Linked DNA regions of Homo sapiens. The protein of the gene in region 1 purifies or fractionates together with the protein of each later gene. This does not show direct contact. Each region holds a gene or a part of one and is shown on either strand. Other genes may lie near its edges.

Evidence for each region.
Region 2: the proteins of TANK (region 1) and RNF115 purify together in Homo sapiens (affinity purification with mass spectrometry, with the first as the bait; one large-scale study listed by BioGRID). This does not show direct contact.

Annotation. Positions count from the first base shown.
Region 1 is NC_000002.12:161,201,928-161,205,582, reverse strand, and holds part of TANK (TRAF family member-associated NF-kappa-B activator), read right to left. Parts: intron 2,097-3,655; coding exon 1,988-2,096; intron 909-1,987; coding exon 790-908; coding exon of another isoform or gene 757-789; exon of another isoform or gene 607-756; intron 1-606.
Region 2 is NC_000001.11:145,814,075-145,817,729, reverse strand, and holds part of RNF115 (E3 ubiquitin-protein ligase RNF115), read left to right. Parts: intron 1-3,655. UniProt on the Homo sapiens protein: E3 ubiquitin-protein ligase that catalyzes the 'Lys-48'- and/or 'Lys-63'-linked polyubiquitination of various substrates and thereby plays a role in a number of signaling pathways including autophagy, innate immunity, cell proliferation and cell death.

The DNA of each region.
Region 1 (3,655 bases):
GTCTCCTTGCAGATATGTACTATTTCTTTCTGTATTACTTCAATAGAGTCTTGCTTAAGCTAGTTGGGTGTATTTTTCTTTTAAACTAAGCACAGACTATTGAAGAAAAAGCTAGAAAGCTATTATCTAATCTGTGTCTTATTATTTACCTGATTTTAATCTTTTATTTCATTGTTTATATATATACACACACACACCACACACACACATATATGTACATATGTATGTGGCATTCATTCATTAATTCATTTATTTATTTATTTAGAGATAGGGTCTCACTCTGTTACCCAAACTGGAATGCAGTGTCATGATCATGGGTCACTGCAGCAGCCTTGACTTCTTAGGCCCAAACAATCCTCCTACTGAGTAACTGGGACTGCAGGCGTGTGCCATTCTGCGTGGCTAATTTTTTCATTTTTTATAGAGATAGGGATCCCCCTATGTTGCCCAGGCTGGTCTCAAACTGCTGAGCTCAAGTGATCCTCCCTCCTTGGCCTCCCAAAGTGTTTGAATTACAGGAGTGAGTCAGTGTGTCCAGCCCTATTTCTTTGTTAAATGTTTTCTTTGTTGAAATGCTTGTGATGTAGAAAAACGGTCAGTAGGAAATACAAAACCTCAGCCTTTATTTTACTTGAAAATAGTTCTTCTATTTAGAAATATTTAAGCCACATATTTGTATATATGGAACTTCTGTTTGGAATTCCAGCAGATCACTTCAGAAAAATAAAATGAGGAAGCTATGTCACGCATCAGCATTTAAATGCTGCTTTCTGCAGAAGCAATGTCTACCTTTGGTAGTTTTTCTCTTGCTATTCCTGAAATCACTTTATCTTGTGGCTGATCAAGAGTCAAATTATTCTTTCTTGTTTCACTGTCTTCAAGCAGAGGAACACAGCCATAATTGTTATCTGCAAGACAAAAACCTCTTGGACATTAGCAGAAAACCCTTATTTTTGGTACCACCTGAAAAAGCAAAAAATAATACAAACTCAAAACCATAAAGAGAATACATTTTAAGGTAGGAGTTTTAGAAAATTCTTTAGGTAATAGTTACTTTGACAAGTTGTCCATTTATATTTTTTCCTTCCCACTAAACAAACACACAAAACCCCTGCTCTCCAAAAGCCAGCAGTATGTAAAATATGCAGAATTTAGAAAACTAGAAATATGCTCTTTGCATCTGTCAGCAACAATTCAACTTTTATATTCACATTTTCAGGTATGCGTTTCTTATTTAAGATAATTATTTGTATTATGACTCCATGCTTATTATGGGAAAATTAGAAAATGCAGACAGCCAAAAAGAATAAAAAGTAAATGCTACCCAAATTTTTATCACCTGTGAATTATTCCAGTTAATATTTTGGTTTATATATTCTATCAGAATTCTTCTTTTCCTATACATATAACTTCACACAAGAATCACCTTTTTCTGCATAAATGAAAAAAACACTTATTTATGTATCCTGCTTTGTTCATTTTGCTATATATCGTCCACATATTCTTACAAGTTAATACCTATTATCATCACTTTTCTTGGCTACATAGCTATTCATATAGATCAGTGTAACTACTGAATATTTGTTTCTAGCTTTCCATGATTAGACATTATACTGTGATACACATCCTCGCATATATATTTTTGAGTACCTGAACAAATATTTTCTTATGATATAGTCTTAGGACTTGAGTTTTTGGTTCAAAAGGCATAGATGTTTTCAAAAGCTTTTGCTGCTATTTACTGGCAAATTGCTTTTTAGGAAGTTTTATAAACTTAGAGTTCTACCATATAGTATAGTATATGTGAAAGTCCACTTTCCCATATCCTGCAAGTGTTCATTTAAATAAACATAACATATAACTGTACCACAGTTATAATATCAAAACTATTGAGAAACAACGAAGGAATAAAATAGAAAAACTCAACTTACACCTTTCTTTTCACCAAGAGGTTCTAGAAATACATAAAAAATTAACATGAACATACCTTGAGTGGAATTCACAAGAAGTAACTGAGATTTTAGCTTGTCAATAATAGTCTGTTGAAGTGACAGCTGTTCCTGTTGTTCACGTATTCTCTGCTCATAGTTCTCAGTCTGCTGACATAAAAACCAGTTAGCCTGATATTCACTGATAGACATGAACATATATTTACCATCCATTGATAATATAAATAGATATGAGTTGCCCACATTGTCATTTTGCAGGTATTGTGATTTATGAGATACAAACTGGCTCCAGGAATGTACTTGTAATTGTTACAAACATCAGTGATTCAAGACACTTAAAGCACCGCAGAAGTTTTAAAGATTAACTTATTTAAAGACATTTCAGTCAAGGATTCAATCTATGATTTCCTGATCCTTCAGTAAGGATCAAAACTGTAATTTAGCATTTATTCCTTAATGGAAAAAAAAAAGCACAAATGATACAACAGATGCTATATTAAAGTGATTCTTTAAAAATACATACTAACTTAAAAAATTAAGATTTTGTGTCTTTCAAATAAACACACTTCTAAATTTATTTTTAGAGTACACAAACACTAAGGAAGTGTTGATACAAATCAAAGGGACAAATGCAAATTATAAAATTATACTGACCAGAAACTTCTCCACTAAGTTTTAAGAAATTAAGAGAATATAGTTGACCTTTGGTGTCTTAAATGCCAGTTTCCCTTATATTGTTAATCCATTAATTTTGCTATGTTATTGCAGTGACTGTGAGAATAAAGCAATGAAAAAAGACACAAGTTTGTACTGAGGAATACAGATGCTGCAAACATTCAAGCAAATTTGAAACTGTTGTATCACAATTACCAAATTAGTACAGTCTTAAAAGCGTATCACCAAACAATAGCAGAGAACTCTTTTTTTAACCAATTTCTATCCCTGGAGGGATAAATAAATAATGACTAAGTTGCAAATTCCTTGAAATATAAAATGAAAATGAAGTTCTAATAATCTCAGAATGATCTTCAGTAGATACTAGATATTTCACTTTAAACTGATTCTTAAAGTTCAAAATTAGTGAAGCTCTATTATTTTCAGAGACCAATAAACTTAAAAATTTTAATAAATTACATAGCTGTTCATAGATTAGCAAATATAAATTAGCTTAAGAAATTAAAGCTTGGGAGGCTGAGGTAGGTGGATCACGAGGTCAGGAGATTGAGACCATCCTGGTTAACACAGTGAAACCCCATCTCCACTAAAAATACAAAAAATTAGCCAGGCGTGGTGGCAGGCACCTGTAGTCCCAGCTACTTGGGAGGCTGAGGCAGGAGAATGATGTGAACCCGGGAGGCGGAGCTTGCAGTGAGCCAAGATCACACCACTGCACTCCAGCCTGGGCAACAGATCCAGACTCTGTCTCAAAAAAAAAAAAAAAAAAAAAAAAAGAAATTAGAGCTAAATACTACATTTTCCCAAATGAAAGGTGAACTTTTATAAGTAATACACTCCAAATATGAATAACTGACAAAGCTGATAAGCAACCCATGTGGTACATTGTCTTTGCACATTGCCTAAAGGCAGTCTTACATAGTTTCACATTCCCCACAGAATTCATATGGATTAAGTAACTTATACATAGGAGATGTTCAGTATATGTTCACTGAAAAATTAAAAAAGGAAATACGGATTCCAATTACATT
Region 2 (3,655 bases), on another chromosome or scaffold:
CTGCCTATCTTGTACTATGGTCAGTTGCTGGGTGACGAAATAATCAGTACACCAAATTCCAGTGACACAGTTTGTCCGTGTAACAAATGTACATATGTGCCCCCAAACCTAAAATCAAAAAAAATATGTGTAGAAAACAAAGAGCAAAATGAAGGACCTAAAACCTAAAAACCATTTATAGTCAATATATAAAAAGGCTTAATACCCCAGTTAAAATCAGATATGGATAAATTTTATAAAAACAAAGTAAACAAAGAGGGTACTGACTCTTGTGATAGTTGGATACCAAGAACCATCCCTCACTGGGGCATGCTGTGGCTCACACCTGTTATACCAACACTTTGGGAACCCAAGGCAGGAGAGGATTGCTTGAGCCCAGGAGTTTGGCACTAGCCTGGGCAACAAAGTGAGACCCTATCTCTACAAAAATTAAAAAAATTAGCCAGGGGTGGTGGTGTGTGTCTGTGGTCCTAGCTACTCAGGAGGCTGAGTCGGGGAAGATTGCTCAAGCCCGGGAGGTCGAGGCTGCAGTGAGCTGTGATTGTGCCATTACACTCCAGTCTGGGTGACAGAGCAAGAGCTTATCTCAAAAAAGAAAAAGACTCCATGATTTAATCTAATCAACTTCAAAAACCCAACTCATTCCTCCACACGCCCTGTGCCTTGGCCATAGCATTTACCTCACCATTCTCCTATGCATTATCTATTTTTAGACCTCTGTCTCCCTTTGTTTAAAATGTTCTCCCAGCCTGGATAACATAGCAAGACCCTGTCTCAACAAAAAAAATAAAAATTAGCTGGGTATGGTGGCATGTGCTTGTAGTCCTAGCTACTTGGGAGGCTGAGGTGGAAGAATTACTTGAGCCCAGGATATTTGAGGTTACAGTGAGCTATGGTTGTGCCACTGTACTCCAGCCTGGGCAACAGAGACCCAGTCTGGATGAGAGAGAAGAGAGAGGGGAGAGAGGAGAGAAAAAAGAAAAGAAAAGAAAAAGAAAAAGAAAGAAAGAACCCATCATCTATGAGTGCTGTCCTCACTGAACACCAGAGGCTGGGTATTGAGTTTACATCAGCTTTTAATGAGCTCTCACTAGGTTTCTTCACCCATTCAATGGGAAGGTCTGCTTCAGAGCCATAATTGTGTTCAACGGGACTAGGTTGCAAGGTTTAATAACTCTTCTCTTCTTTTTAAAATTTAATTACTTTATTATTTCACCTTTTTTTTTAAAGCCACATGTAGGCTGAATTCATTTAATTTGACAGAATAACACTCCTTACTGCTAATCCTGATCAATTTTAGCTTTGTGTGTCTTTGGGTTGGATCCACTCAGATAAGAGGACAAAAGAGGGCCGGGCATGGTGACTAGTGCCTGTAATCCTAGCACTTTGGGAGGCCAAGGTGGGCGGATCACCTGAGGTCAGGACTTCAAAACCAGCCTGGCCAACATGGTGAAACCCCTGTCTCTACTAAAAATACAAAAATTAGCCTGGCGTGGTGGTGGGCGCCTCTAATCTAAGCAATTTAGTGATTTGAGCTGGGCTCGGGAGGCTGAGGCAGGAGAATCGCTTGAAAACCCAGGAGGCGGAGCTTGCAGTGAGCTGAGATCGTGCCATTGCACTCGCAAAAAGAGCGAGACTCCATCTCAAAAAAAAAAAAAACCATTCAAAAAGAGGACAAAAGGTTCATTTGGAAAGAGGATATTAAGAAATAAGGAGAAATCATGAAGGGAATTTTAAAATGAAAACATATTTAGTGGCATTGTTTTCTGTTAGGTTTCAAAAAAGTCTCCATTCCAAGTGAGTATTGGTTTAGGAATTTCTTTCTCCTTATTAAAAGTGTTTTCCTATTTACAGTGAAAATAACTTTAGTAAAATTTTGTGAGTACTAAACTTGGATTTTAAAATCAGAGATTTCGATTATATAGTCTGGAGCCTCAGGATTTTAAGTTTCTGTAGGATTGGGTAAAATGCCATTGTAGATTTTTTGGTCATCAGATTATAGAATAAATACTTAAAGTAACTTCAGATTATTATTTTCAAAACCATAGCAGAAACTCTTACCTTACCTATCTTATTGAGAGACAATGTGAAGCCAAGACTAATGGAGTTAGTGTGCTACATTGATGATGAATGACTGGGTAGTACACCACAGAGGGCTGTGTCATGGAGTGTAAAGGTGTTATTCCATTCCTACACCCTACCATCCGTCTTTCCCCATTAAATCAAGGTCAGGGAATGTTACCTTATGTGATTAAATCTGGTAGAGTCATCATTAAACAGGTGAGATAAATCATATGCAGAGTAACCTACTTTTGGTATTGATGAGACTAGGGTGGTTCTTAAGTATTTTATGGAGATCAGGGTATCTTCCTAAATCCAGATGAAGAGATCAGGTTAAGAACTGCTCGCTTTCAGGCTCCACCTGAAGAAACTATGTAGTAGGCTTCTCTCCCTCTACTTATTTTATCATCTTCTTTGATCTAATAAAATGTTTTCCTTATCAATAAGTAATGTTATCTAGTTTGGCTCTACCAGGTGCTAGAGAAGGCATTCATCATTGTATTGTACTTGCAATAACTCTAATACAGGAAAATGTTCAAACCACCCATAATAAAAGTAGCTAAAAAGCAGATTTCTTAAAGACTTTGTGACCGTTTAAGCTCAGCTGACCTTTCTAAGTTGCATGATTCTTAGAAAGGTCCCAGAGAGATGTCTATCTGGTGCTATATAGCAGTTGCTAATTAAATATTTTTTAATTGAATGATTGATATGAGTTGAACACCCAGTAATTATATTTAAAAAGTGATGACTTCAGTGTTTTGACGCCTTTAAAAGGCTACAGTGGTACAAAATGTAGGTGCTACCATGTGAAATTTGAATGTACAGTGAAGTACATATATTCACTGCAATATCTAGAAATAAATATGTATTCTTATAGGTAGAGGCTAGTTTATCCTTGTAATTCTACTGATAAATATAAATGTATATATTGGGGAAATTTGTGGGACTTTTTCAGTATAAGGAAGAAAAAAATCTGAAAATTGAACTCACTGCAGAAGAAATTTTTTGTATTTTCGGGGGAAGTACCAACTAGATGTGCTAACACTTTGTATTTCTTTATGTTTAGTTGCCTCTTTTTTTTTTTTTTAAACGGAGTTTCCCTCTTTCACCCAGGCTGGAGTGCAGTGGCACGATCTCGGCTCACTGCATCCTCTGCCTTACAGTTTCAAGTGATTCTCCTGCCTCAGCCTCCCAAGTAGCTGGGATTACAGGTGCCTGCCACCACGCCTGGCTAATTTTTGTATTTTTAGTAGAGACGAGGGTTTCACCATGTTGGCCAGGTTGGATCTCTTCACATCCTACTGAGCAATAAATGAGATAGCCTAGAGCAGTGGTTTTCAATTTCAGGTAGTTTTGTTTCCCAGGGAACATTTGGCAAAGTCTGTAGACAATTTTTTATCTTTTTTTTGGAGACAGAGTCTGACTTTGTTGCCCAGGTTGGAGTGCAGTGGCATGATCACGGCTCACTGCGGCTTCCACCTCCTGGGCTCAAGCAATCCTCCCACCTCAGCCTCCCAACTAGCTGTACCACCACACCCGGCTAATTTTTTAATTTTTTGTAGAGACAGAGTCTCACTGTGTTGCCTAGGCTGGT